2 separate regions of the Homo sapiens genome follow, and region 2 is linked to region 1. Evidence: fine-mapped expression QTL. A gene starts in region 1. The other region holds a variant in brackets. All regions are shown on one strand. Distances are from middle to middle.

What was found.
Region 2: its variant is fine-mapped to the expression of ZNF618 in cerebellum (GTEx, PIP 0.96). The same link has a PIP of 0.9 or more in cerebellar hemisphere.

Annotation. Positions count from the first base shown.
Region 1 is chr9:113,869,967-113,885,997 of GRCh38, reverse strand. ZNF618 (zinc finger protein 618) reads right to left here and starts at 9,689. Exons shown (of 15, transcript NM_001318042.2): 1 at 9,585-9,689. The coding sequence starts at 9,617. RefSeq lists enhancers at 11,265-11,765, 11,766-12,266.
Region 2 is chr9:113,912,453-113,928,483 of GRCh38, reverse strand. The region is part of intron 1 of ZNF618 (zinc finger protein 618); the gene reads right to left. Among named protein-coding and RNA genes, the nearest start is that of ZNF618, 44 kb to the right of the region's middle. The variant C/A (reference allele first, on the strand shown) is at 8,876.

The DNA.
Region 1 (16,031 bases):
CACTAGAAAGCAATGTTTTTCCCTGTGTTTTCTATAGCAGACTGGGGGGCCAAGCATCACCTGACTCCATTTATTCGCTTTAGCTTATATAGAAAGCCTCATTCTGCTTTGTCAGCCAAAATATTTATATCACTTTTTTGTCGACTCAATACCATCCTCACCTCAGCCTTCCTCCTTTCCTTTTTAAGAAAGGAGTTGTCGCCAACATGTTTCTCCAGTTCTTTGCTGTTCATGAAGCACTTTCTAGTCCATTAACTCATACGATGCTTTCAAAAAGCCTGGAAGGGTTTAAGGATGGCCTGTCCTCCCACTAAACAGATGAACAAGTAGAGGCTGTGTCGGGGTCCCAGACCCCAAGGCCTTCCAGGGCTAGGCAGGCCACATACATGATTGAAACAGGATGAGGCTGGGGACAGATGCAAACAGGAAAGAATCTGTGAAAGACTCACAAACTCCAAACTTTCTGAACCCTGGGCTGGCAAAAAGATAAAATAACATACAAGAGAAGGGACCCACTCATCTTGTGGCCCTTAGTCTGTGACTCAGTTTACACAACTTACCCAGCATAGCACTAATAATTCGTACTAGTTATAAAAAGTAACGTGTATTTAAAAAGTAACATGTATGTCAAGAGTTTACAAAGCATTTTCAAACTTGTTATCTTATGTCATTCCTGTGAAGAATCATTACCAGCCCATTTCTCAGATGCAGAAATTAAGATACGGAAGGACTAAAGAACTTGTCTGTGGACTTGAAAGTGTGTAAGCAGCAAACCTGTCCCAAACCCAGGTCATCATCCAGGAACCCCAGGGCCTGCCTTGCCCCACTGCCACGTCACTTACACTGCTGAGAGACACCATCCAATCCAGCTGCCTAGCCACAGGCGTCTCCCCTTTGAAACCTGATCACTCCAGGATCAGGCAGAGAAGCAGGTCATCCAGCCCTGCTTTGATGACAACCCCAAGGGTATCTAATTATAACAGGGAAGGGAGGAGTCAGGATTCTCTCGCTATTTCTCAAGACCAAATTAATTTTAATTCCTTTTGATACAGTGTATACACACAGGGCAGGAAAAGCACTGGTTGAGGAGTGAAGAAATCTGAGGCTTTTAGTCCCACTTCCGCTTGTTCACTGAGGTCTTGGGTAAGTCACTCCACCTTCTTCCCAAGGCCTCAGTTTCTCTGTCTCTCTCTCTCTCTCTCTCTCTCTCTCTCTCTCTCTCTGTGTGTTTGTGTCTCGATAAGGAAGGAAAAACTGGCTTCATGTCCCATGGGGTGCGTGTGTGTGTGTGTCGATAAGGAAGGACAAACTGGCTTCATGTCCCATCTAAGCCCAACTGATGGGTAGCATTATATAATACTAAGGACTCTGAGGCCGCTGGCCATACTCAATGGAAAGGACTACCATGGTCAATTAGTGATGTCTGCCACAGGCTAGAGGATGGGGAATGGCAGCATGTATGCTACTTATTTACCATCCTTGGACTAGATGATGCACAAATAACATGCTGCAAGTGAAAAGAACTTTGCCCTTTACAAAACTTTTTTCTTACATCTCTCACAACTTTCACAAGAACCCTATGCATCATCATCTTCAATCATCATCATCAATATATTATCATCTCACCTTTACAGGTAAGGAAAATACGGTGCAAGGAAATGAAGTACTTTGGCAAACACCACAAAATGATTAACTGGTGGAGCAGAGAGGGGAGCCGTGCCTTGGCTCTCCGACTATGCTCTGCTCATTCTACCCTTGGAAATGTCAAACTGGTGCTCCGCTGTTGTCGGGCCAGCTCATGCATGTGGCTGTACTGAAGAGACCCCCCTCCCCCATTTACAGGACTTCACCTCCCTCCCACGGGCTACTTGCCCCTTTTAGAGAGGCCACAGCAAAATTACAAAACCTACACACAGACATGGCAGGAAAGTAGGACTAAGTCAGAGTTCCAGATGTTTCTTCCCAAGGTGAAGTCCTGCCTTCACTGTACAGGGCGGGGGGGGGGGGGGGGGGGGCCAAGCCCAGAGAAAAGTGAGGTAAACAGAGCATGGAGCCCCCACAGGTCATAGTCCTCCCCACCAGGAGGACAACAACACTCAATCCCAAGATGCTTTCAACTGATAGATGCACCATCGATTTTATAACAGCTTTTGGAGAAGAAATAAGAGGGAGAAAAAGTTCACTAGAAGAACAAATCTACTGTAAGGGGCATCCTGATTTCAGAAATATGGAAACGTGGGAATATGAACACTGAGGATCGATGTCTACCTTAACTTAGGATTCTATGCTTGCTTGCTGAAATTGGCCACAAAGTGTTAAAAATGACAGCATTTTATAAAACGTGCTGAAAAAAACTAAGCCAAGAAACAGAAGGTTCTGTTTTCTCCCATAAATTTTCCTTGAATCTTTGACATCTGCAAACCAAAATTCAACCAAAAATGGGGTCACATCACACATTTAGGTGCTTCAAGTTGAAGGAGCCCGTGTGCCTGGATATTCTGCAAACAGGCCCCTGGTGTTCAGTTCCAGGACACCTGGCTAAGAAGACCAGGCATAAATACAGGGCACTGCTATGCCCCATTCACCATACCTGCAAATCAGGCATCTGGGGGTCCCCCATCCACTTTAAAGAAATACTTTATACAAAAGGAGTGAGGAGGGCAGGGGTGAAAGTCATCAGACGAACATTTTAAAAATCCCCCAAGACATGTAAAGGAGCATTTCCCCAACTAAGGATCCCTGTTGGACTTATTATTCCAGGGGAGCCATGGCTTCAGAGCCAGCTGTAAGAAAATGTGCCTCGGGCTCCCTAATAAAACATTGGCTTTGACCAAATGGCCAAGCCCAAATTGGTCATCCACTCTTCACTAGACCCAAAGCCCACTGATCTGAGCTATTTCCAAAAATCAAATGAAGTCATCAAATATTTATGGAGCTGCTGCTCTGCGCCAGACCCTAAAATGAATAACCGGTGATCTCTACCCTCACAGATGTTACAAGTTGGCTGGAGAAGCAGAAATGCAAACAACCAACTCTGACCTGTGGGTCCACATTGTTTGGGAGGTACCATGGGGGCAGAGGGAGAGGAAGCCTACCTGGGGAAATTTGTTGGGGGAGCTCTACAGAAGAAGAAGTGCAGCTGATCTCGAGGAGGGTCTGGTTTCTCACGAAGCAGATATGAATGAGGGAAGGGGCACCAGAGGCAAGGGCCCCAGCATGAGCAGAAGCTCAAAGACATACAGGTCCACCCGCGATTGAGATGTATCCCTTTTAAAGCCTTGCCACAGGCTCAGAAACAAATCCAGAAACATTCCAAGGAGCTAGAGCAGCCCCGGAATGAAAGCATCCAGAATGCTTTAACAAGAAAGTCTCATGGATGGCAGGCTGTTTTAAAGCAACAGCCAAGAGTGTACATTCTCACTTGTCGCCTAACTTTGCCTGCTAACGATAAGCCACCAGGTTTCCAGGACTACCCCAAGTGTTGTCAGTGGGACTTAATCTCCCCAAATGGAGAATCCCTGGCCACTGGGTTGAGTCAACTCACATGCGTCGACCACCTACTCAGGCCCTCAGACCGGCTGAGAGTCTCCACATGTGACCCCTTCATTTAATCCTAAAACAACCCTGCAAGGCTGGGATCATTAACCCTCTTTTCCCAGATGTAGAAGCTGTGGTTCCAGAACCAGAGTGACTTTCCCGAAGTCACACAAAGCTAACCACACCATGAGGCTGGATTTCAAACTCTGGTCTGGCAGACCTCAAACCCAGCTTTCCATTTTCCCAATTGGGGTGGATTCGGAAAATCTCTATGCATCTGACCTAAGGCCTGGCCTGGGGGGATTTCCTGCTGATGCCATGTTTTTGGCTCAGAAATAGATTTCATTGCCAGGCCATCTTTTACCTCTGATCTCCTTCCTCTCCTCAGACCCCAGCCCTGGTCCTGGCCACCTGCTGCCTTTTTGCAACTTCATCCTTCTCTCTGGCAACACTTTATTTAAAATGCACTTCAAAAAGCAACAGCCTCCCGGACTCACACTCCTTGACTTCAACAGCTCACAGGCTGCAACACATCATCCCGGAGTTACTAGCCATCATTTGTCATTTTTAACTACAGCACAGTGGCCTAACCCTGGCAGAAGTCTGCGTTGGGACAAATAAAAGGGAAATGTGGGCTACTCTAGCCAGGAGAGCTATATGGATGGAACTCATCATCACTACAGGCTGAAATGCCTCAGAGCATGTGAGATTCTGATAGGAAGTCTCACCAACAAAACCAAGAGGTCTGAAAGGTGTTGCTACCCTTCTGGGGCCAGCCAGTGATGACGACAACTGGTCCAAACCTGAGCTGTCCAATATAGTAGCCACCAGCCACATGTGGCTGCTGAACAGGTGAAATGTGGCTGGTCAGAATTGAGATGTACTGTAGGAGTAAAATACATTAGATTTCAAAGACTCAATAGCACCCCCGCAAAAGACTGTAACTTGTCACATTAATAATTTTCATATGGATGGCTTGATGAAAGGATAGTATTATGGATATACTGAGTTAAATATGTTAAAATCAATGGCACCCGTTTCTTTTACTTTCCTTAATACACTGTGAGAAAATTAAAAATTATATATGTGGCTCGCAACGGGGGCTTGAATTATATTTCTATTAGCGCTGACCTGACACATTTAAAAGATGAGGAGACTAAGACAGAAATTCTGGGATTTTTAAGGAAGTGCACACACACAAAAATACAGACTGTGTTTTTGTCTGATTAAATTAAATATAGCACAAACACAGACTCTCTAACTCCAGAAAAATTTCTCTGGCAATTTAAACTAAAAGTGGGGAACAAAAGACAAGGACTCCACACACTTTAGATCTCCTCTCCAGCAAGAAGACCTTGCAAAGACGCTGCCTTCAAACTTGTATCTGCCTTTCCATATGTCCTTCCAGACTCATCCAAGGCCAACAAGCTGGGGTATGTGCCTGGGCTGCCCATGTGGCTGAGCTTTCTTCATATGTGGCCCTTGAAGTGGGCTCAACCAGGGCTCAAAATATGTGGCACAGGACACCTAACCCACAGGGTTCACCTAAAAGTTAATTGAGATAATAAATGCAAAAATAAAGTATAAGCAATAAAGTGCAGTATACCTGCAGCACATCATGGCGGTTCAGCTAGTCCAGTACCTTTCAAACTCTTTTGGCCGTGACCCACAGGAGGAAATCTATTTCAAATCACACACATACATCCACAAATATAAATACAAGTTTCATGAGAGGATACTCACCTGTACCCTGTGGTATGCCTCTGCTATTTTTTGTTCCCCTATATTCTAGTCTATTCTTGTTTTTAAAAAATTCTGATTGTGATTCACTAAATTGACTTCACAGGCCACTAATGGCCCATGATTCAAGGTCTCGCCTGGGAATGGTAACTAAGAGGTACACTCTCCACTCTGATTTACAATGCTGTTTGGCCACTGCACCCCTCTCTCTAGAATATGGGAGTCGGGATATGGCCTCAGAATCCTTCTCAACACAGTGATCCAGGCAGCCATAACCAATTCCTTGGAGTTACAATCAGAAATGAAACCTATTTATTATTATCCTTGATCTGATCCCAAGTGTTCATTTTATAAATGCAAAAATTGAGGCTCTGAAGGAAAAAGTGATTTGTCCAAGGTCACACAGCAAGACCTTGTGGGGGCTAGGGCTCCTGAAAAGAGCCACTTCATTTTACATCACCAGAAAGAAGGTACAACTGACCCAAAACATCACAAGAACATGGAAAAAATTCAAAATTTCCTCATGACCATGAGAAGTCGGCTTATATACATCAGTCATATATGGCAAGGAAGTTCTTATCACCCACCAAGGAGAAGACGTAAGGATTCTGAGGTCAGAGGAAGCAGCATGCCAAGAGCTGAGTCAAAAGTGAGAAAAATATTGTATCTGACACTGGAGGAGTTTTAAAACCCAGTTTCTCAAGTGAAACAAGCCATTGGCTGTTTATTTTCTAGGACGAGGGAGAGGTCAGCCTTATACTGACCAGCCATCTTTGTTGCTTTCGTTCTGCAAAAGCAAGAACCCTTGTTCAAGTTCACCTCTGTGCAGAGCTGGAAGTATAAGCAAACCTCTTTTCCTAGCTTGCTCCAAAGTCAAACTATAAAGCAGGCCCTTGAAATTTCAAACCTTGTTAGAAAAAATTAAAAAAAAAAAAAAACCTCCTTAGGCAGAAAAGCAAAACATTAAGTAATAAGAGTCTCCACTGTGAAACTGAATATAAACGATCTTTCGCCAAAATAATTCAGCCCATCATCAAATTACCACCCCCAAGTCCAATTTGCCAGATATTTTGCCCAATAATCTACGAGAATGTGGTGAACAGACAGGAGCTAATAAAAATTAGCTCACATGTCCATTTCTGGTCACACGTCCACCTAAAATAGGAGGTGAGAGAGCCAAGGCCAAGGTCAGATCTCAATCCAGAGAGAGACACCAATAGAAACAAAAGAAAACTGGCCCCGCCCCCAATAGAACCATCATGCACCTCTACTTCCTTTACAACAAACATGATCAGAATAACCAATTTAAAAAAAAAAAAAAAACAGAAAAAAAAAAAAAACAGTTCTACAAAACCAGAAATGATTTTCAACTTCTAGCCATAGACAACAGAACAAAATTTCAGCAGAATGGAATGAAGGAAGCTGAATTGTGTGTCAGGAGATCCAGGCCACACAAAGGGACGTGCTGCAATATTTTTATTCCTTGCACCAGAAATAACCTGTTATCTACAACCCTGACTTTTTCTCAGATGCCCCTACCCCCCTCCACCCCTCCCCAGCCCATCTCTCCTTCATCACTGCTAAACTCAGGCCTTCTGCCTCATGAGGCCTCCAAAGCCCCTTGGAAATTATAAATTCCTTGACCGTCCTACTCATCGGCCTAAATAATTCAACAGAAAAAAATTTTTTTAATTATGCTACTTAAAAAAAAAAAAGCTCATTCCAAATATGTCAGAATGTGACCAGTCAGCCCTGAAGGATTTCGTTACTAAAAAAATAAAATCTCCCAAATGCAATGGCGATGATGGGAAATGTCAAACCTCTGCCATTGTCAAATATATTTCACAGAGATAATATATTTGACTTATTCCACTTAAACATCCAAATTTCCACAAAACAGGGTTGGGAATCTATGGACTGGGGCCACCAGTTTTCCCAAGACCAGCTAGTGGCTGGCAAAAGGAGCAAAGGGTTTCCTTTCTTGCCCCAGGTGACCCACCATCAATTTCCAATCCAAGGTCCCTCCAAGATCCCGCCCTGCAAGTCCTAACAATATGCTGTTTTTGGACAGAAAAATTGTAACTTTTGGGGGATAGGCTCAAAATCCCCAGCAAGTTCAATTAGATACTAATTTATCACAAAACGCTTCATCTTTGGGTGGGTACTTTATTCTCATCTGTCAAATTTCAATTCGGTCAATATTTATTTGCCTTCTTAAATTTTTTTTTCTTTTTTGTTTCACCTTCATGTGATTCATTTTAAGGCCAAAACCTCCACATGAAATATTGTTTGCATATATGCTTTCATATTCCAAAGGCAAACCTTGGGTTTGGCTTTTGTTTGTATTTTGATTATTTTTCCTTTATTTTGTTGCTGCTAAAACCAGCTGAGTTGGTGTTATATCACATTTCTTCAGCAAAGTAAGTGTTCTACCAAGGAAGATGGATAAGAATCAGAATTTTCATCTCCTTTTTGCCCATCCCTCTTTTATCTTTTTCTTGTTAAGTCAGTAAAATTTGTGCATTTTTTTTTTTTGGTCACAAACCCCCCAAAATGATCAAGGCTAATGGATTTTTCCCCCTTTGAAAGTAATCAGGTTTTTGAAAAATAACAAATATTGATAAACTACCAACCCCACATCACAATCAAAGAGGCCTGAAACCAATCTAAATTTTTTTTAAGTAATAAATTTTTCAAATTGGAAGGGTGAACAAGACAGAAAAGGGAAAATTTTCTTCCTTACCAAGGATTCCTCAATCCTTGTCTTCATCAATTGATTCAGTTGCATGTCATAAAAAATGAGCTTCTGTGAATCCACTGTTAGTTTTTTCATAATAATGTTAATTATGCATATCTTATTTTAATGGCGGTCTCTCCTACAAATCTGTGGGCTACTCAATTTGTATAATGTATGAATTTACATTTTTTCCACTTAATATTGCTCAAAAAAGGTTCCTGACATTTTCTGGATAAAACAACAACAAAAAAGAAATGCCTAGACCTTTCAGGAAACAAAATCAGAAAACAGTCTTAATTATTCCATCAAAACAAAAAAAACACACACACACACAAAACCCAACAAATACAGAAAAAAAGAAAGAAAGGATTTCACTGTAACTTTTCTAGTTTCTGTTTTCTTTAGAATCTTAGGATTTAAATGCAGTAAAATGTAAATGCAAAATTAAAAAAAAAAAACTACAATTTTTGGGTGTGTCCAAAGCCAACATTTTAGGTTCTATTTTCTCTTTTAAATCCTTCGTTCGTGGAAATAGAAAAACTTTAAATATTGCCATATAGAGAAATTAGTCTTTTTTTGCCCGCTGAGCTAAACAAGTTCCAAATTACAATGAAGTACAATTTCTAATTGCTTCATAAAGCCAATTCTCTCAGTTTTCCCTAAACTCAACAATTTCCCTCCTTTCTTTATTCCAATTAGTTTTTTTCTCAAACTAAAATGAGTTGGGTACCCAAACTGACTTTGCTTTTAGGAGGTTTTTTGCTTTCTCCCCTCCAAGAACTAAATTCATTCAAATTCCAGCTTAATTTTCATTTACATATTATCTGGATTTGGCTTCAGAAATAAAAATTGTCTCCATGCTTCTGGAAAGATCAAAGTGAAAATTTTCACCCGAAAAAAGAAAAAAAAAGAATCTCTTACCCCTCCACTGCCTGGTAGTGCAAACTTTTGAAAAAATAAGAAATAAAAAATATTTCTTTTCAATTTTAATTTCTTTTTTATTTACAAAATAGTATCCTCTAGGTGGCGTCGTTTTAATGGGAAAAAACTACCGTTTGAAGAAAAATTAGAAAAAAAAAATTGAGAAAGGAAAATATGGCCTAAAAAAAAAGATTGTTGCAAAAATGGGGGACCTGGGGGGAAAGACCTCCCGGGGGGTCATCGGGGACCCCGAGCGCAGAGAGGGTCAGGGGAAAATTGCAAATTTGGGGGGGAGGGGGCAGAGCTGGAAGGGGTTGCATTTTTGCAAAATGTGAATTGTCCAAACTGAAATGGCTGCTCTGTTCTCTCGCCGCTTTGTTTTCTGGGCTCCGGTCCGAGCCCGGGGCCGGAGGGGGCGCTGGGTGGGGGCCCCAAAAGACCCCCTCGTCACCCCCACCCTCCTCGCACCCCGCAGCGCCCGGGGGGGTGCTCTCCGGACCCCGACCCTCCCGATTGCGCCCACAAAAAGCCCGCAAACGTGCCCAGGCACTTTGCATTTTGCAAATCTTGCAATGAAGTGGCGCAGCGCCCCGGGCCCCGGCCCCCCGGGGTCCCCCGCGCGGTGCATGCCCCCGGCCCCCCGTCGTACCTGCGGAGCCGCCGCGCCGCCCGGCTGGTTCATGGGTCCGTGCGGGAGGAGGCGGCCCCGGCGCGTCCTGCTCCTCCCGGGCCGGGCTGCTGGTGCGCGCACAATGCCGCCGCCGCCGCCGCCGCCGCCGCCGCCGCTCCCTCCTCCGCCCGCCCCGCTCAGGCCGGGGGGGCGGGGGCGCTGGGGGCGCGCGGGGGGGGCGCCGGCCCTCGCCCCCACCCCCGGCCCGCACCGGCCGCGCCGCGGCAGCCGCTGCCGCCGAGCCGCCCCTCGCGGGGCCGCCGCCGCCCCCCGCCGCCCTGCCCGCCCCCGGGCCGGCCTCGCCGTGCGGCCCGCGAGCTCGGGGCCTCGGCCTCGGCCTCCGCGCTGCCGGCCTCCGCGTGGCACACAAAGCCGGCCGGTCCAGGGGCGCGCCCGCCCTCCCGTCCGCCAGCCCCAGTGCCGCGGCACACCCGCCCCCCCAAACTTTCCCGCGCCGCGCCCTGCCCTCCCCGCGCCCCCCGCGCCCGCTCCCCGGCTCCCTTCTGCCCTCCCCCAGTCCCCCAGCCCCTCGGAAATGTCATTTTCACGCTGGAAAAAAAGTTCAGGGAGCCGGCTCTCGGCGGAACGCAAGAGGTTAATGGGAACTCTGTACCCCGCTGTACCCCCCCGCCAAAAAAAAACCAGATTGATTTTTGAAATAAAAGTTTTCAAGAGCTGGCTTGCTGGAAGACTGGAAGGCTTATTGGGAATATTCTATTGCCCTGCCACTCCTCCCAAAAAAACTAATGTAATAAAATAAAAGTTTGAAGGACTGGCCCCATGTCCGACAAGAGTGGTTAAGGGGACTCTAGCCCCCCAGCCAGACTGATTTTTAAAATAAATACTTGAGGAGCCGCTTTTATGTGAAATGCCAGTGAAGCGGCTGTTTCTGCCTATCCTTGCCAAATTAAAATATATATATGTATTTCTAAATAAAAGTTTGAAAAACTGGTCCTACAGTAAGACAAGAGGGGTTAAAGGTTAAGGGATATTAGCGCCCCCCACCCCCATATCCCCCAGTTAGGTTGATTTAGAGAAGGAAAATTTGAGAAACTTGCATGTGAAATAAAACGTGAACCAGGATATTTCTTTCCAACACCCCAAAATAGCCAGTTTTTTTGTTGTTGTTATTGTTGTTTTTTTTTTTTTAACTTGAGCAACTGCCTCCTTGTGACTTGGGAAAGTTTAAAAGGGATTTTTTTTTCTATTCTCTTCCCTATTCTCCTAAAAAATCCGATTTTTTAAAAATTGAAAGTATGAAGGACCTGCCCTATTATAGAGACAAGGAGGGATTACTGGATCCATCCTACATCTCCCACAACTGGTTGATTTTTGGAATAAAAATGTTAAGAATTGCTCTTCTATGAGATGCAAGGTGAACAGAAATCCTTCTTTGCCCCTCCCCAAAAGAAAACTGCAAGGGTACTTTTCAAAAATAAAAGCATTGGAAATTAAGAGTAACCAGGTATCTTCTCTCTGCCCCCACCTTCAAAAATCAAATGTTCTTTTTTGTAATGTTTAAAGAACTGGAGCAATATGAGACAGGAAAGGTTACAGAAATGTTTTCCCTACAATCCTCAAAAAAGTTATTTTTAAAATTTTAGGAAACGGAGGCACTGTGTAGAAGACACCTCCTTTCCCTAATAAGTTAAATTGGGAGTTTAGCCCTATATGGGAGACATGAAATTAAGAAACACAACTCTTGCCCCCCTTAACAAACACTCATAACACAAGACGTTAAAAGGAGTCTTCTGGCCGGGAGTGGTGGCTCACGCAAATAATCCTTTTGGGAGGCCAAGGCGGGTAGATCACGAGGTCAGGAATTGGAGACCAGCCTGGCCAACATAGTGAACCCCTTCTCCACTAAATATACAAAAATTAGCCAGGTGTGGTGGCACACACCAGCCAGTAGTCCCAGGTACTCAGGAGGCTGAGGCAGGAGAATTGCTTGAACCCGGGAGGCGGAGGTTGCAGTGAGCCGAGACCACGCCATTGCACTCCAGCCTGGGTGACAGAGTGGGACTCCGTCTCAAAAAAAAAAAAAAAAGAGGAGTCTTCTAACCACTTCCTCCCAGACCCCTAAAAGTTGGAGATTCCTTAAAAATTGAAATTGAAAGTGGCCATTTTTCTCCCCACCAACCTGGTAAGTATGTCCCTGCCAGAGGTTTGGCAGCCTCTGCCCAGGCTGGTGTGCAGCAGGCACCAAGGTGAGTAGGGGCAGCTTGCAGAGCATGGCAGAGTTGGGTCCTGTGAGCCCTGAGCATATGTGCTGGGCAGGCAGCCCCTAGTCCACCTGCCCCTCATCCACCAGGTGGTTGGGGCCTTGTTACCTGGAAAGATGCTCCCAGATTTGATGTCTGTCTGGCTCGATCCTTGTGTGAAGGTTTCTGGGCACCTGCCTCAAGGCCGGGTCCCCGCCTCTGCCTAGTAGAGCCAAGCCTGATCTTAGGCCTTAGAGTAGAAACTAGATCCAAAATGACATGGGGTCTCAGTCACCACAGCTGAAAGCTGTATGGTACCAAGGAAAAACTCCTGCCCTGGGAGTCGGGAAAACTTGATACGATAATTATTCATTTGAGCACTTACTATGTGCCAGGTGCCTTGTATCTAGTAGGACAGACACACACCATGAAGAGGAGAACTATTTGCAGCAGCTCTTCTCAAATGCAAGTGATCCTTGGAATCAGCAGGAGAGCCTATTCAGATTGCTGAGCCCACCCCAGAGTTTTGAATTCATTTGGTCTAGGTTAGGCACCAAGAGTTTGCATTTCTAATGCGTTTCCAGGTGATGCTGATGTTGCTGGTTTAAGGGCCACCTTCTTCAAACCTTTGCAGTACAGTGCCAACAGTGAGGTGCTCAGTGCAGCTCAAGGAAGGGTCCTACCCAGCCCGGGCGTGGGTCAGCGAAGATTCCAGGAGGGTCTTAATTAGATGGAAGTTTCTCTCTAGAGCAGGGATTCTTAAATGGGGACTTTGCATTGGTTTGGGGAACCAAGAACTACTCCTTAACCAAATGTATGTCTGTATGTGCATTTTGGGGGAGAAAATCTGTGGCTTTCACTCAAGAGCATCAGTGACCACCAACCTGAAATAATCCACAGCCTGTCTTCAGGCACCTCTGGCCTATAAAAGCTCATGGTCCTTCTCAGCCTTCTTTTTCTAGAATCACTGCAAGCCCTTTCCGTTTCTTCGCCACCCATGGGTCCCAGGAGCTGGGCCTTCTATCAGCACATCTCGACCATAGAGGCATCTCCTCCCCAGGGGTCTCGGCCTTGAAGAGTGCTTCCTTTCTTCATTCTGTATCAGATGGGCCATGAAGGGTATCCTCAGGGGACAATGGCTGAGCTTGAAGTCTTCCTGACAAAATCCAGCTTATAAATGAACCCACATATTTCCCAAACCACAGCAGAAACTATGCAATCACTCAGAGCTGTGGTTTGTCTCCATTCAGGAATTAACTGAGGGCATACTCACCTTGTGGAACTTTTGGAGTGTCCTGAGGACCTGCCCAAGAAAGTGGCTAGGTACTGTATGAGGTGGCTATGGTCCCATCAGGTGCACTGTGGTCATATCTTAGCCCCCTCACTTTCGAGAGCAATGACACTGTGACCAGTGTGGGGAAGCCAAGAGAAGGGGAGGACCCCTACAAACACCAGGCGAGCTCTGGGCAGAGCTTCAAGGGGGAGGGTGTGTGGGTGGAGGAGCCAACATATTTTGTGATCGCCCAGGGGACAAGACCAGACCTGCTCTATGATGGAGCAGGCTCTGTGATACAGCGTTGGAAAAATGACTGTTGGTCAGGGGTGTGGAAGAACAGATGCTCACATCGGTGGAAGCGTGGTCCGGGAGGGACACCCACAGGCTCTCCCATCTTCTGAGGGTCTGTGGTTCAACTCGGCGTGCCTGAGTTTATCAAATTCTGGAAACTTTTTACTCCTTCCATGCCTAGCCCACTGCCTCCAGGACTAGCATTACTACATCATTTTATGAGCCCAGCCTCTGGCGTCAGTTCCCAGGTTCACTGGCTCTGGTCCTCTTCCCCTGCGGTGTGGTCTCCAGCAGATGGCTCAACTTCTTGCCCCCACTTCTTCATCTTTAAAATGATAGGCCAGGCTCGGTGGCTCACGCCTGTAACCCCAGCACTTTGGGAGGCCAGGGCGGGTGGATCACAAGGTCCGGAGATTGATACCATCCTGGCTAACACGGTGAAACCCCATTTCTACTAAAAATACAAAAATTAGCCAGGTGTGGTGGCACACGCCTGTAGTCCCAGCTACTCAGGAGGCTGAGGCAAGAGAATCGCTTGAACCCGGGAGGCGGAGGTTGCAGTGAGCCAAGATCAAGCCACTGTGCTCCAGCCTGGGCGACAGAGCGAGACTCCATCTCAAAAAATAAAATAAAATAAAATAAAATAAAATAAAATAAAAAGAAATAAAATAAAGTAAAATAAATAAAATGATGCTAACAGTTTTATCTACCTCATGGGGTGCCCTGAGGATTAAATGATGTAATGTGTGAAGTCCTTAGAAAGTGTATTGTGTAGCGAGGTCAGGAGATCAAGACCATCCTGGCTAACACGGTGAAACCCCGTCTCTACTAAAAATATAAAAAAATTAGCCGGGTGCCTGTAGTCCCAGCTACTTGGGAGGATGAGGCAGGAGAATGGCGTGAACCCGGGAGGCGGAGCTTGCAGTGAGCCGAGATCGCGCCACTACACTCCAGCCTGGGCGACAGAGCGAGACTCTGTCTCAAAAAAAAAAAAGAAAGTGTCTCGTGTAGAGAAAGCGCACACGTCGGCAGGTGGAATTTCCGGTGCCCTCACTACCCGGGTGATCCTGGCCTCAGGGCTTCATCTCTGAGCTTTAGTGTCTGTCTTTGAAAAATGGGGATTCTAAAACCTACCAGTCTTATCAATACGCTTTCAGTTGTAACCAATAGAAAAGAAATCACGCTAAACAGACAAAAAATGGAAAATTAGAAGGTGGATCATGGTATCCAAGGGCAGGAAATGAAACAAAGCCTCAAGGGGATTCAGAGCCAGGAACTAGAAAAGTTTCAGGACCTGGGCTTTCTCTCTCCATCACTCTGGGCCACAGATCTCTTGACATCTCAGTCCTAACTTCTCCCTCCTTCCCACTCTCTCTCCGGGTTAGGGGTCGTCTCTGCTTCCCTGGACACGAAGTCAAAATGGTCAGCATACCATCCTCTCAGTGCAGCAAGTACTGACTGGAGTCTCTGCGCTCAATCCAAACTCAGAATAGAGAATGGAGTGAGTCAAGCTTGGCTTAGGTGCCACCAGGAGCTGATCCTCTATGGCCAAAGATGGCAGGGTCACAAAACACATAGAGCCTCTTGAGACCCAGCCTTGAGAGAAGGGACGTGGGGGGCTGAGCAGAACCTTCCAATGTTCCTCTTGGAGGACTGGTGAGGGTTCGCTGAGACTGAGGACGTGATGTGGAGATACACCAAAGTTGCATTTCTTTGTGCTAGAGTCTGGCAACATTTGGAAAACCCAGGAAGTTAAGATGCTGAGGCTTTTTCTAGTAGGTGATGGGCAGATGTCAAACTTGCGTCACAAGCAGGTGGTGGGAGTTGCCTCAGCAGAAGCCTTTGGGTCCCAGACAGAACCTGGGGGCTTGGCTAAGATCTGCTGGGTAGGTCTTGGTGGAGAAGTTGCCTTTATAGAGAAACAGTCGGCTCAAAAGGGCATGGAAAAGAATGAAGGCTAAGACTTCATGAAATGGTGTTTTCTTCCTCAAGCTGAGTTACTTTTCCTTAAGCCTAAAAAACAAGGGAAATGCTCTCTTGTAACAGCCCAGCCAGGGTGACTTGGGCTTTCAAGTCTCTACACAAAGGGGGGGGAAGAAATCACACGATCTGGTCTTAGAAAATTCCTTAGCAATTTATCAAACAAGTTGGCAGCATTTTCTCGTTTGATTGACTATTTCTCCAAAGTGGGCAGAGAAGGGACAGTCACCCCCATTTTAAGGCTCAAGTGTCTTGATCCGGTACAAAATTCCAACTTTTGCTCTGGAATTTTCTTCTTTTCTTCCATTCCTCTACCTCCCCATCCCCGCACAGGGAGAAGTTGGGAAGGAGTTGGGATCAACCAGCAGCAACGTACTTCCTCAAGGAGGGACCTTGCAGGTCATGGTGAAGTCTCCAGAGAAGCAGGTACCTTAGGCCTTGGCAGTCCCCCAGGGAGGTGAGTCCAGGAGCGAAAACGGAGAGAAAGAAGATCCAGGACAAGATACTGGCAAATAGAAAGAAAGAGATCAGGCTGGATGCGGTGGCTCAAGCCTGTAATCCTAGCACTTTGGGAGGCCGAGGCGGGCGGATCATGAGGTCAAGAGATCGAGACCATTCTGGCCAACATGGTGAAACCCCATCTCTACTAAAAGTACAAAAATTAGCTGCGCATGGTGG
Region 2 (16,031 bases), 42 kb before region 1:
AAAATTACATGGTATTCTAAAAGGCAAGGAAAGAAACACAACCTGAAGAGAGACAGCAGACATCAGAACTGGCTTAGATATGACACAGACTTTGGAACTGTCAGATAAGCAATTGTAAATAACTACGATTAATATGTTTAGGGTTCTAATGGAAAAATTAGACAACATCCAAAAACAGATGGTTAACATAAGCAAAGAGATGGAAACTATAGGAAAGAATGAAACGAAAACACAAGAAATCAGATACACAGCAACAGAAATGGAGAATGCCTTTAATGAGCTCATCAGTAGCTGGATATAGCTGATAAAAAACAAAAATCACTGCATTGGAAGAGTTCAATAGGAACTATCCAAACTGAAGTACAAAGAGATTTTCAAAAAGAGATGATACAAACTTCTGGTTTCCATTCCAACATGTAAAGAGCTTGGAGGCTGTCACTCCATGCCTCGTAACAAGAAAAAAACCTTAACAAACTGAAACTAAACAACTTTTTAGATCCATCAGAGAACTGAGGTCACAGAGCAAACCACTGCCCCTAAAAGTGGAGAGACAGCAAATAAAGAGAATTGCAACTTAAGACAAGCTGATGAACTCGCTTGAAAGACGAAAACTTCCATGAGCTTCACCAGCTTCTCAGAGTTAAGATGGAAGAAAAATCTCCTCATGGTGGGGTAGGGACAAAGTAACATTTTGAAATACCTGCAGAACATACTGTTCTATTCAACAAAAGCCTGCCCTCAAGGGAAACTATTTACTAGGGTCTAACCAAAGTGGGTTTTACCAGGGTCTGATTGATATGGGGGAAGGGAAATGTCCTTCTCCAACCCCTCTAGTTTTCAACACAAGGGAAAGGAAAATATCCAACTCCAGACTCCTCTAGCCTTCCTGTCTCACCTAAGGGGTTAAAGAAAAATTTCACAAGCACATGTAAAGGTCACGACACAGGGGCACAGGCCCACTAAAAGACTGAGAACCAATGAGAGGATTCTAGAACACTACCCCTCGCCCAGTCCTTAGCACCACATCAACAGGACTCCTGTATGCTAATGGGATCACAGCTGAAAGAACTACAAGGATTGGTCACTATTTAAGGAATCTCTAAAGAAACCCAAAGACAACAGGTGAGACAAAAACAAGGACCAGAGAGGAAATTTTAGCCTCTGACACTGACAGCTACAATAAATTGTAAACACAGCCTAATTCCTAGCCTGATAAACATAAAACCTCACACTAAAGGCCTATTTACCTCAGTTCCTTTTACCTAATACATCATGCAAGGCTTTAAACCTCACATTAAAATGCTGATTACCTCTGTACCTACTACTAGATACAACATGTCCAGCTTTCAACAAAAAATTATAAGGCATGTTAAAAGGCAAAAAACTGAACAGCTACAGTAAGAGGCATCAGAACCAGACTCGGATATGACATAGACTTGGGAATTTATTTACTTTTTATTTATTTATTTTTGAGACAGGGTCTCATTCTGTTGCCCAGGCTGGAGTGCAGGGGTGCGATCTCAGCTCATTGTAACATCTGCCTCCCAGGCTCAAGTGATCCTCCCACCTCAGCCTCCTGAGTAGCTGAGACTATAGGCACATGCCACCATACTCAGCTAATTTTTGTATTTTTTGTAAAGACAGGGTTTCACCATGTTGCACAGGCTGGTCTTGAACTCTTGAGCTCAAGCGATCCACCCATCTTGGCCTTCCAAAATGCTGGGATTACAAGCATGAGCTACAGTGCAGATTTGGGAATTTAAAATACCAGTAAAAAATACACAAAGTGCTCTAATGGAAAAGGTGGACAACATGCAAGAACTGCTGATAATATAAGCAGAGAGATGGAAACTAAGAGAGAATCAAAAGAAATTGCTAAAAACAGAAATTTCATAAATAGAAAAAACAGAGAAAAAAGAGTGTAAAAAATAGAGCCAAATATCCAAAAACTGTGAGATAACTACAAAAGGTATAGCATAAATGTAATGGTAATACCAGAAAGAAAAGAAAGAAAAAACAGAAGAAATATTTGAAGTAGCAATGGCTGAGAATTTTCCAAAATTAATGACAGACACAAAACCACAGATCCAGGAAGCTCAGAGAGCACCAAGCAGAACAAAAACCAAAAAAACTGTATCCCAGCGTATCATACTCAAATTGCAGAAAATAAAAGACAAAAAGAAAATATTGAAATATTTTTGCAAAAGGGGTCCAAAAAACCTTACTTATAAGAAGAATAAGGATAAGAATTACATTGGATTTCTCTCCAGAAATCATGCAAGCAAGAAGATAGGTGAAATACTGAAAGTCCTAAAAGAAAAAAAAAAAAAACAACACCAACCTAGAAATCTGATCCAGTGAAATTATCCTACCAACATGAAGGAGAAATAACAAAAAACAAAATTTGAGGGAATTTGTTGCCAGAAGATCTGCCTTGCAGGAAATATTTTTAAAAGTTCTTCAGAGAGAAGGTAAGTAATTTGGGTCAGAAACTCAAACAAACAGAAAGAGAAGGACAGTGTTAAAGAAGGAATAAATAAGAGTAAAATAAAATCTTTTATTTTTCTCATTCTTACCTAACAGATAACAGTTTGTTCAAAATAGTAACACCAACAGGATACTGGATGATTATACCATGTGGATAAATGAAATGAATGACAGCAATGTTATAAGGGAAGGGAGGGAAGAATTGGGACTACTCTGTTATAAGATATGTGGCACTAACCATGAAGCGTCAAAGTGTTACTTGAAAGTGGACTCAGATTAACTGTACATGTATACTGCACACTCTAAGGAAAATCACTATTTTTAAAAAATAATTGATATGTTGAAAGGGAAGAAAATAGAATCATATAAAATGCTGCAGAGAAGGGAGAAAAAGAATGGAAGACAAAAGAAGAAACAAAGAACAAGGGCAACAAATAGAAAACAATTATAAATGTGGTAATATTAATATACCATATCAATCACTTTAAATGTGAATGGTCTAAATGCCAATAAAAAGACAGAGATCATCAGAAAGGATTGAAAAAAAAAAAAAGACCCAACTAACTACATGCTGTCTATAAGAAACTCACTTTAAATATAAAAATGCAGATATATTTGGATTAAAAGTAAAGGTTTGGAGAAAGATATACCATACTAAGACTAATTAAAAAAACCTAGAGTAGCTATATTAATTTCAGACAAAGCAGAAGTCAGAGCAAGGAAAATTATCAGGGATAAAGAGGGGCATTACATAATGATAAAGGGGTCAATTCTCCAAGAAGACATAAGAATCTTTAATGTGTATGTACCTAACACAGAAACAAAATATGTGAAGCAAAAACAGAACTGCAAGGAGAAATAGACAAATCCACCATCAATATCCTCTAGCAACAACTGACAGATCCAGCAAGTAGAAAATCAGTATCTAGTTAAATTAAACAACATCATCAATCAACTGGATCTAATTGACATTATTATAGGGTATTGCATCCAACAACACCACAATACACATTCTTCTCAAGGACACACAGAACATTCACCAAGATAGTCACATTTTAGGCCCAAAAGAGCACCCTAACGAGATTAAAAGAACAGAAACCACACAAAATCTGCTCTAAGATCACAATGGAATTAAACCAGAAATCAATAAGAGAAAGACTGCCAGAAAATTCCAAAATATTTGGAGACTAAATAACACACTTCTAAATAACACACAGGTCAATGCAGAAATCTCAAGAGAAATTAAAAACTATTATGAACTAAGCGAAAATGAAAATACAATTATCAACATTTATGGGAAGCAGCAAGTGCAGTGATTAGAGGAAATTTTATAGCACTGAATGCAATATAAAATCAATAATCTGAGCATCTACCTTAGAAAACTAGAGAAAGAAGAACAATATAAACCAAAGGCAAGCAGAAGAAATCATAAAAATTAGAGCAGAAATCAATGAAATTTAAAACAGGAAATGAGTAGAGAAAATTAATGAAACTAATGGCTCATTATTTGAAAAGATCAATAAAATTGATAAGCCTCTAGCCAGGCTAACCAAGACCAAAAAAAAAAAAAAAGAAGAAGAAGAAGAAGAAGAAGAAGACACAAATTACTAACATCAGAAATCGAACGGGGTCATCACTACTGATCTCATGGACATTAAAAGGATGATCAAAGGAATGTTATATACAACTCCTTGCCCACAAATTTGGTAATTTAGATAAAATGGACCAATTCCTTGAAAGACACAGGCTACCAAAACTCAGATAAGGAGAAACATATCATCTAAAAATGCCTGTATCTATTAATATAAAGGAAACTGAATCCATAATTAATAAACTTTCAAAAAAGAAAGCCCTAAGTCCAAGTGGTGAATTGTACCAAACCCTTAAGGACAAAATGATACCAATTCTCTACAATCTCTTCCATGAAGTAGAAGCAGAGAGAAAACTTCCTAACTCATTCTACGACACTAACATTACTCTAATGCAAGTTTAGCATCCCTAATCCAAACATCTTAAATCCAAAGTGCTCCAAAATCTGAAACTTGTTGACTGCCAAGATGATACTCAAAGGAAATGCTCACTGAAGCATTTCAAATTTTGGATTTTTGGATTAAGGGTGCCCAATCAGTAAATATAATGCAAATATTCCAAAATCTGAAAAGAAGTCTGAAATCCAAAATACTTCAGGTCCCAGGCATTTCAGATAAGGGATACTCAATCTGTACCAAAACCAGATAAAGACATTACAAAAAAGGAAAACTACAGACCAATGTCTCTTCTGAACAAAGGTGGATAAATGATCAACAAAATAGTACAAAATTGAACCTAAAAATGTTTTAAAAAGTGTATGCCCTGACCAAATGGGATTTATTCTTAGAGTTCAAGACTGGTTTACCACTTGAAAATCAATAGTGTAACCCATCACATCAACAGGCTAAAAAAGAATAGTCACAGGATCATATCATAGATGTGCATTTAACAAGATTTGACACTCATTCATAATAAAAACTCTTAGCAAGCTAGGAAAAGAGGGTAACTTCCTCAACTTGATCAAGAACATCTACAAAAAACCTACAGCTAACATCATATTTAACGGAGAGAAACTAAATGTCTTCCCCCTAAGATCGGGAACAAGGCAAAGATGTCCTCTCTCATAATTCCTATTCAATGTCATAGTGGAAGTCGTAGCTAATGCAGTAAGACAAGAAAAGGAAATAAAAGGTATACAGATTGTAAAAACAAAACAAAACAAAAAAAATTTCTTTATTCACAGATAATATGATTGTCCATATAGAAAATCCCAAATAATCCATTTTAAAAACTGGAACTAATAAGTGATTATAGGAAGCTTGCAGGATACTAGAGTCAATTGCTTTCACATATCCCAGCAATGAAGAACTGGGATCTGAAATTAAAAACACAATGCCATTTTTATTAGTGCCAAAAAAATAAAAACGTAGGTATAAATACTTAACAAAACATGTACAGGATATCCACGGAAAACTACAAAACTCTGATGAAAAAAATCAAAGAAGATCTAAATAAATAAAGAGATATTCCATGTTCATGGAGGGAAGACTCCGTATTGTTAAGATTTCATTTCTTTCCAACTTTATCTAAAGATTTGATACAATCCCAATCACAAGTCCAGAAGTTGTTCTGTGCATATCAACAAACTGATTCTAAAGTGTATATACTGAAAGGCAAAAGACCCAGAATAGCCAATACAATCCCAAAGAACAACAATAAAGTTGGAGGATTGACACTACCCAGCTTCGAGACTTACTATAAAGGTACAGTAAACAAGACAGTGTAGTGTTGGTGAAAGAATAAACAAGTAGATCACAATAAACAGAACAGACAGAATAAGCAGAATAGAAAGCCCAAAAATATACCCAAACTAATATAGTCAACTGATATTTGACAAAGGCACAAAGGTAATTCAAAGGAGTAAGGATACTCTTTTCAACAAATGTTGCTGGAACTGGGCATCCGCATGCAAAAAAAAAAAAAAAAAAACAAACCAAAACAAAACCCTCTCCGGCCTGCCCCTGTCTGCCAGTGTACATAACTTAGGACACCAACCACAACCACTTTCTTTGGATAGAAGGTATTGGCCCTCTGGGCAGCTGCCAACTTATCTTCCCTCTGCCCCGTCCAGCCCTCCATTTCATACCTAACCACTCCACAGTGAGATCAAAACTCTCAGAGCCCATGACGACTTTCACTATCAGTTTCAGGCCTTTCCTCAGTCCCATTTCTGTTCCAATTTCTTCTCTTCCTTTTATCTGCATAAATTGTCCCCTGGAGAAATTGTGTTTATTTTTTGTTCCCTGGTTTATCCCCAGGATCACACACAGAGTAGGAGTTCAATAAATACTTCTTGAATGAACAAGCTTTTAAGTTATGTACATGTCATATGTGTTTTCAGTACATACATCAAAGTATCGATACATCAAAAATCAACATCCAAAGTGATTATCTCTGCATGGGAAAGTTATGGGTGATTTTGATTTTTTTATTCCTTTTTGCTCATTGGAACTTCCTAACTGTTCAACAGCGAACATGTATTGCTTTGGATAATACAAATAACAGGAAAAAAAAACCCTCCCTACAACATAAGAAAGGCCAGGTTTATACAAAGGAAGCATCCGAAGTGATGATTCACTTTATAGAAGGCATCTTTTGCTTTGTAGAAAGCTTTGTCATAAAAATATTTTATGTAAGGAGTAGTCAAAAAAAGGATTTGATCTGTGGGACACTTCAGAATGATGAAGTTCAGAAAGTCCCATTTCCCCTGAGAAGAACAGAAGCTGTTCCTTCTTCCTTCTTTCCAGATCATGTTCTGTTTCCCCATCTTCTCAAGGAAGACCACAGCACATTCCCAGCTGGTCAGTTCCAAGCTCAGTGACTCCTAACTCTGTTTGCCTCCGGGGTTTCATCTTCAGATGTGGGTGTTTCGAGACTCTGGAAAACCAGACTGGATTCTCTGCTGGGCCATAACCATGAAGAAGCCTTTCAAGGGACTGGCTAAAGAGAGAACACCCTCAGCCTAACATGTGGATGGCTAAATCAACTCTGAATCTCTGACCTCATGAAAACCCTTCCACTCAGTGAAACCAGACATCATACAGGCAGTCCCCAACAAATGCTACCCTGGGACAGGCTTGCCTGTGTGCTTTGCACTCATTCTCTCTGAAGTCCAGAGCAGAATCTAGGTGCATAACACTGGCCTGATTTTACAGATGGGGAAACGGACCAGAAAGGCGAGATAATTTGCCTAGGAACACCCAGGTATTAGGTGGGAGACACAGGACCCAGGATTCCAGCCTTGGTCTAATGGATGCCAAAGCTGCAAGATAAATGAATACATATGCTCAAGTAACTTTTTAAAATAGCAAAGGTATTCAACATCTGATCTGTGTCAGGTTCTAAGAGACACATGCTGAGCTGGAGCCACCAATAGGTCAGCCATTGCCCCTAACCTGATGGAGCGTGCATGCTAGCAAGGGAAACACACCACACAACTGACTTCCACTTGTGAAATGGGCTACCCAGGTAGCACTGTCACCCTCAGCTAGGTGGGACACAAATGTATGGCTTAGCAAAACTACAACTAGCCACATGGCAAACTGCACAAATCTCCAATGCTAAATCCTATTGATACTATCACAAACTGTCATTGATGTGGCTCTTCCCATGTGCTAGGTACTGTGCTTGCCACTTCATATCCATTCTTTCATTTAATCCTTACCACCACCTTATGATGTAAACTCATTAAAAATTGCGACTCTTGGCCTCGCACAGTGGCTCATGCCTGTAATCTCAACACTTTGGGAGGCCAAGGCAGGCAGATCAGCTGAGGTCAGGAGTTTGAGACCAATCTGGCCAACATGGTGAAACCCTGTCTCTACTAAAAATAAAAAAATTAGCCAGGCATGGTGGCGGGCGCCTGTAATCCCAGCTACGTGGGAGGCCGAGGCAGGACAATCGCTTGAACCTAGAAGGTGGAAGTTCCAATGAACCGAGATCACACCACTGAACTCCAGTCTGGGCAACAGAGTGAGACTATCTCAAAAAAAAAAAAAAAATTGTGACTCTGAAAATAAGTAAAAAATCAAGATCTACTTCTGTGTTACAGTACCTTCTCCCAAGCACTACAGCACACTACATGGACTGCACCCCGCAGGCTCCTCCCCACCATAAATCACCATTAAGGGGTCTCCTAGCCCCTAAAGGGCTCCACGCCAATAGCCTCACTTGAAACAAAAGTGTCAGAGATCAAGCAGGTGACTTCTGCATCGCCATGGCAACTGGCTGAATGAGGCCTGTCAGGAACTTGGGAGTACAAAGGCCCAAGGGAGAATGAACTTGGGATACCTGGGATCTCTTCCAACAGTGATTCCCCACTCTGGACCCAGGAGCTATAGAGGCCCTGACATTCAGGCCAGGGCCCTGGTGCTCCCCAGGTTCAAAGGTCCAACCAGGTGTCAGGCCCCTGTGTAGCCCAGGCTGGACCAGACCCTGGCTGCAGCCTTCAGCATCCCCACCCACGAGGATGGCATAAGAAGGTGAGCCTGGGGTGACGCGAAGGCTGTGCATCAGCTCTGCAGTTGACTGTGATACTTTTACAATGTTCATGACTTCCAGACTCATTAGACTACGAAGAGCCAGTCACTTCCCTTTTTTGGACCTCAGTTTCTCCATCTGCAAACTAGAGGCAACCCTCCTTGCCTGGCCCACTTCCCAGGACCACTGTGTAGAATCAGCAAGAACACAGGAGTCTGTCTGCTCTGCAAATCCAAACCGTGGAATCAAGGTGGCATGGGGACAGTTCCACCTCCTCACGGAGAGGGCTGGCCCCGCCGTTGGAGGACACCAGCAGCAG[C/A]CGGCCCAGGGGCCTGCCAGGCCTCTCCTGACTATGAAAAGGCTACCACTCGCCAAGTTCGCTCCTGGCATAACAGCCTGCCAGCACGGATGGCAAGCCCGCCAGCCAGTTTTCCTCCTCAGGGATGCACACACACATACAATTCAACTCATAAATAAAAATCTGATTATCACAGGCTTTCTCAAAGCCAATGTGGCTGAGTTTTAATCTTTTATAAAGAAAAATTCATTAAATATTCAAGCGAGGCCTGTGCATCTCGGGAGACTGCAAGAGGCTCTCAGCAGCCCCCAGCTACAGACACACCAGTGGGGGTCCCAGGACCTCTGCCATCAGCCACCAGAGCATCTCTCCCTGCCGCGGCTGCTGTTCAACCAAGTCATTAGCCACAAGCAGGTCCAGGCTCTGCCAGCCCTGTCTCACTTTCCTGCCAGCCTGCTCCCCTTGGCTGCTCACACTCTTGGCTCTTTCTGCTCTACGAGATGGGGGATGCCCTGGGATCCTTTTCAGACTGGATAAAACTGAAAACAAGCTGAAAGGGACAAAACGTGAGGAGATGAGGGAAAGCCCCTCCCCTCCTAAACTGCTAATTCAGACTAACTAGGGGAGGCTAGTGAGGATATGAATTATGGCCTCTGGAAGGTGGCCACTGAGTCTTCCTTTCCAGTTTTCATTCGTTCATTCACACCAAATTTATTTACTGTGACTCCACAACGTGCCAGACACCATGGGCACTAAGAATACAACAGTGAGTGATACAGACAAAAACCTTTGCTCTGTGCCATGGGGTAAGGGCTGATTCCAGGGCCGGGGTGCAAGATGAGCCTGGTACATCCTGAAGACTCAGAAAGTAAGAAATGCTCAAAGAATGACAGGGACTTGTTCAAAGGACAGAGGAGCTTGCGTGAAGGGGCTGCCACTGGCCAAATCTGGAATGATTTGAGCATCAGAAAAAAAAATAATGATGGTAATTGATTATAACCCATAAAATAGACATCCAGCAGTCTAAATTGATCTAAATAAGCAGGTAAATAAATAAATAAATGGAGGAGAAAGGAGAGATCTTTCTACAGTACAATTCCAATTAATAAATACAGAAGAAATGATGGAAATAGGAAATCACTATTTGGCAAACACCACAGTTATCACTGTTGTAGGCAAGAAGCAACAATAGATGCTAAAATTAGTGGATAGAAAAGCATGATGAAAAATGAGATATTTGCATAGTCTCAAAATATCGCCACACAAAACACTTATTAATGCAAAGAATAAAAGAGTAACTTTACAGAGAAGGAACCTGGCAGACACCACCTTAACTAAGTGTTCAACACTAACATCACCAGTAGTAAGTCATCAATACCCTAGGTCCCCGATGTCATACAGTGAGAAGAAAACAGCATCACTTCTGGGGTATTCTTGCCGGAAATGCATACCCTCCGTCATCCTACAAATGTCTCACAAATCCAGGAGGAGCATTCTATAAAACAACCGGTGGGGACTCTTTAAAGGACTCAAGGGCACAGAATTCAAAGACTGACCAAGGATCTGCCCCTGACTGCTGAAGACTAAAGAGGTAAGACAACTAAGTGCAATGTGGGATCCCGGATCGGCTCCTAGGCCAGAAAAAAGACCATTAATGGGGCCATTGGTGAAATGTGAATAGGTCTACAGGTTAGTTAACAGTATTATATTAATCCAATTTCTTGTGTAAATATTAATTTCATAGTATAATCTGAGCATTATACTATGGGCATAGAAGTTAACATTTGAGGAAGCTAGGTGAAAGTGTATGGAAACTCTTAGTATTTCTAGAGGTTTTTATGAGTCTGAAATCTTTCGAAATCAAAGTTTTTTAAAAAATGTGTTAAGCCCTTCCCTCACAAAACTTACCTTATTGGGAAAGAGAGGTGGGAAGATAGAGAGGAAGTATATACAAATTGTTTTTTAAACAGTAAAATAACCATTAGATGATTACCAGTACTATGAAGAAAAATGAAGCCAAAAAGGAGGATGGAATGGGGAGATGGTATAATTTTAAACAGTACTTAAGAGAAGGCTTGCCAGACACGGTGGCTCACGCCTATAACCCCAGCACTTTAGGAGGCCGGGACAGGTGGATTGCTTGAGCCTAGGAGTTCAAGACCAGCCTGGCCAACATGGCAAAATCCCGCCTCTACAAAAGATTTAAAAAAAAAAAAATAGACGAGTGTGGTGGCACACGCCTGTAGTCCCTCCCTACACGGGAGGCTGAGGTAGGAGGATCAGTTGAGCCCGGGAGGTAGTGAGTACAATGAGTGGAGACTTAGCCACTGCACTGCAGCCTGGGTGACAAAGCCAGACCCCTATCTCACAAAAAAAAAAAAAAAAAAAAAAAAAGGATAGAGAGAAGGCTTGCTAGGCAAAGAAGGATATATCCAGAGGGACGAGCCCAGAAAATAACTAGAAAAGAGCATTCTGGGCAAGGAAACAGCAAGTGCAAAGGCCCTGAGGCTGCAATGTCTGGTGTGACAGAGAAAAAACAAAGTCAGACTGAACTGTGGCAATATCTCAGCTCCATTCCTGCCTTGGTGGGAGCTGGCCACCCCATTCCACCCTCTCCATGCCCCTCTTCCTTCTGAACAAGATGCCAGATTAGCCGCCCAAAGGCTTGGCAGAGTAGCATCTTAGGAAAGATTCAGTCCTCGAGCCAGTAAATAAAGTTTAAATTTCACTTGAACAATCTCTTAAGAAGGTACCATTGCTGGAGACTGTCTTCCCAGTTTTCTAGAAGCCCAATAACCAGTTTGTCCTCCAGAATTGGGACAGAGCAATGTTTTTCTGATTGAGCACCAGACGAAGATGTGTTAAGGGACCATGTTGGGTGAAGGATACACACCTTGCAACACGAGAATCACAGTTAGGTGGGTGACATGTTCTCATTCTGAGAGGGACCAAAAGCTCATCAGTTCTCATCTTCTAGGCACGCTCACACCAGGGTAACTGCCACCTGCATGATTCTTAACTCTCCACGGTTAAGTGCCATGATACTCATTGATCAATCATGTCTCTGCTTCAAAACCTTCAGTGCCCTTCCCTTTCCACGGGACAGCTCCCAACCTAGACTGGTACACTTACCTCTACAACAGAACAACAGTGGGCATTTCCTAACTGCAAGAGAAGCTTATGAGGGGTCAAACTGAAATCAGTTTTAGGCTCTTCTTAAGTTTTTGGCTGAGACCTGTAACCTTATCATCAGGACCACGAAGGCACAAACAGCAAATGAACTCTAGCAGAAAGATGCGGAATCCACCGGTCCAGGCTACATCATCAGCTTGTTTCGTTTTCTGGGCCTGAGCTCATGGCTGTGATTTTTTATTGCAGCCATATAACACGGTCATATTTTCTGCTAGTAAAATTGTCCCTGGGTCATACAATGGAATCAAATTGATCAATATTTCACAGAGCTGTTGCAAAAAAAGCTTTCGGGTGTTCCTGCCCTTCTCTCCAACACTGCAATACACACACACAGTCACACAGACACACACACACACACACACACAGACACACGCGCATGTCTCAGAATGGCCCACCTTTGTCAGCACAAAGAGATAATACTATCTCCTTATATAGCTGCTGCCATAAAGATAAATGTGATAAATACTATAATTATCATTATTCATTCACTCAACGAATATTTAATAAGCATCTACTATGTCTAGCCCTTGCTGGGAACAGAGGACATAGTAATGAATAAAGCAAACACAGGCTGTGCCCTCATGGGGATTATTCATTTCCTTGGTTAGCAAAATTCTCTACCTGGTTTACAGGGTCGTCCACAAGAATAGCTAGTATCTGTCTGTCTGTCTATCTGTCCATCCATCTACCTCTCTCTATCCCTCCCTCCTTTCCTCCTTCCCCCAGAAACCCCACACACACCTTTTATGTCCCACCACTCCCCAAATACTCCCTGCTCAAGTAGACCACCTAATATTTTCAGCTTCCCTCAAAAGGTATTTTTAAGCATCTTGAAATGCCATTTGCATACAAAGCCTTGGCTAATTAGAATCTTTCTACCTTTTCCTTAGAGTCTCGGATGGCTTTATCTTTCCCCTTTACCAATCTCAGCATTAACTACCCACAAGCCTGCACACCTCCTCCAGCTGGTGTCCCTGACCCTCCTCAAGCCACCAGTCTCCCCCCAGTTCCTCCACCCCTTCACCTTGGCATCCACAAAGCTCAAAGGGAACCAACGGCCTGACTTCTCAGGGGCTCATCTAGTCCTTCATCTCATCTTTGACAGTAGCGGATGTCAACAGCAAGAACCACTTCCACTATTTCAGAATCTTCTGCTGAGGTCCACCATACGACAGGCAGGGCAGAAGCTTTGAGTGACACCTGGCTGGTGGCTAGAAAGCAACCTCAGATGCACTCAGTGATGCCGACCATAGCAGGCAGCAAGCTACATGGAGGCCAAACTCCAGCGCCTTGCACAAAGCCTGATGCATAGTAGGTGCTCAATAATGGTCAGTTGCTGCTAAAACTGTTTATCTTTGAAAGTTTTGCTAAGTAAGGTAGAAGATTTTCCCTCTATAGTTAAATGAAGAGAAAATGAGCAATTTTATGCTAACTGTGCCCTTAAAATATTAGAGAAAACTGTTCTTAGACAGGGGTGCAAATTTCAAAGGATCAGGGGCTATGCAGGTAAGTTTCATGAGCCAGTCAGGTTGGAGGCCAGTGCTGGGAAGATGAGGGGGCCAGTCAAGCTCGCTCCTACTGACTGTTACATCCAAGTTGTCAAAACAGGTGGGACATCAGAATTTTTAAAGATGAGCAACTATTGTGGCCAGATGGTGTTTGATCTCTGGTTCAACCTCTGTTTAAACACTCCTCCCTTCCCCTACCCAGCCCTCTCTATCTTGTTACACCCGTTTGGAACAGAAAAGATGTTTTTATAATTAGCATAGTGTTTATATTCCAATGGGAGCATTCAAAAGGCTTAAAAATAGAATGATTCCTTACACACCTTAGAGCTCTTCCCCTGAAGATCTTCTTTACACTAGCATTTTCCCTAGCAAATCTTTTGGAAAGGTCAACTGCAGTTTACAAAATCATAAACCGGCAACTCCGAATGATTGGGATTTTGTTGCATACACTGAGGCAACTTTAAAGTCCCACCCAATGGGTTCTTCTGCTTCAGTGCTTAGTGGCTCTGAGATTAATGGCTCTACAGAGAAGCGCACGTGAGGAGAGCCCCAAGGTGCCTATATCCTGCGTCTTGAAGGCCTGGCTGCCAGAGGGAACCAAAAGAGGCTCTTGGAATTTGGCAGGCCTCTGGGATCCTGGAACAAACATGGACTTTGGTTTAAGGAAACCCGACTTAGAAGACTTAGACACTACCTTGCTAAGGGCCAATTTATCCCATTTACAGAAAGGGTGTTCTCATCACAGAAAGAACCGGGGGAGCAACCGCCTTAAAAAGCAGCTCTCTCCTGGGGTAATAACTCAGTGTTCATGTCTCCTTATATTAGCCAGCAGCATGTTAAATAAAAAGTGTGCTTAGAGGGGGAAAGGGTGGTCCAGGTTGGGGGAGGCTGAATAAACAAAATTCATCTATTTTCTTTGCTGCAGGACTTTTCAGAGCCTTTAAAGACCCAATGGCCACTGTGAATTTCTAAGACACAGTGTGTTCCATTCACAGGTTTATCTAGCCCTCAATTCACCTCCACCTTCCTCTCCCATGTCCCCGTGGAGCATACAGCCTGAGCCACATTTCAGAAGTAAGGGCAACAAGCCTCAACTTCTAAGATTAGGAGAGAAAGGGACTTGCCAAAGATCCACAGCTCATTAAGTCTACCCTCAAACCCAAGACAACAGTCTTTCCACAGCACCCACCCTCCCTCCCTCAAGACCATTGCTGCCTGCCCTACTGGTTTAGCCAAACAAGATCTGACCAAAGATAGACACTGACTGCAGTGTTCAAGAACCAAGGAGTGATATCTGCCAAGTTCCCAAGCCTGGCATAAACTGCTGAAAAGTATGAAGCAACAGCTGGGCCCAGAGCTGCAGGATCTTGGCTCTAAGAGGCCTGCCTTAGTGGTCAGCCAGCAACTGCTTTCATACCTCCAAGGGTAGGGCTGTCGCCCCCTCCTGCAGGTTCCTCACAACTGGATACTGGCTAAAGAACATTGCTAGTGTTTTCTTTCCCGTGACTCCAATGCTGCACATTGCAGGGTTTGTCAGGGGGATGTAGCTTTATGTTAAATCTATCTGCAGAAGAAGGCGGTCAACCGCACAGACTTTGAGGGACAGCAATCCTGAATTCAAATCTCAACTCTACCACTTACCAGTTAACACTGAGATCGCTTCAACCCTGTGAGCCTCAGTATCCTCATCTGTAAAAGGGGGGAATACCACCTCCCTGCGTGTGGGCAGGTGGGCACTGAGTGAGATTCTAGGGGCAGCTTCCCTTCACTCAGCACAGGCGTTAGAGAAAGCAGCTCTTACACGTGGCAGCGGTTCCTGGTGAAATCCACTCTGCTCACTCTCCCGTTTCCAGAGTTTGAACCTCCCTTATAGATCACTTGCCCTGACAGCTGCCCCTGGAAACTGTCCAGATGAACTTGCTGTGAAGGAAGAGCAGAGACCAAGCAGAATGTCTGGAGTAACAGCCGCCTCTGACCTTGGAGGGTTTTCTTGAAGGCCCAAGGTTCCCTGGTACAAAACAGCCCAGGCCAGAAGAGATCAGAAAATCCTCGTAACTGTTGCTAAAGGGATGTTAAAGCGCTGGTCCATCACTTAACTGTACAGATGGGGAAAATGAGGCCAAGGGGGGTGGGATCTGTCTTGGCACCCACAGAGGTCAGTGGCAGCACCAGACAGGGCCTCTGACACCTTCCCATCCCTCCTTTGGTGCATCCCACGACAGGGGAGGAAGACGAGGGGAGGAACTCTAGGAAGGTGATGTGGCATCCCCAACCCTCATCACGTTCCACTGATTTTTTAATAGACTTTAACAATTTACTGACACCAGCAGAGCTTATAAAATAGTTTAATTGAATTAATTAGGCAGTCCCGACTTACTCCTGAGTTCCCCCTTTGGCTCCGGGGAGGCTGTGCCTGCTGCCTGCTTAACCCCTTGCATCCTAGAAAGACTGTCACTCACTCACATTTAAAATGATTC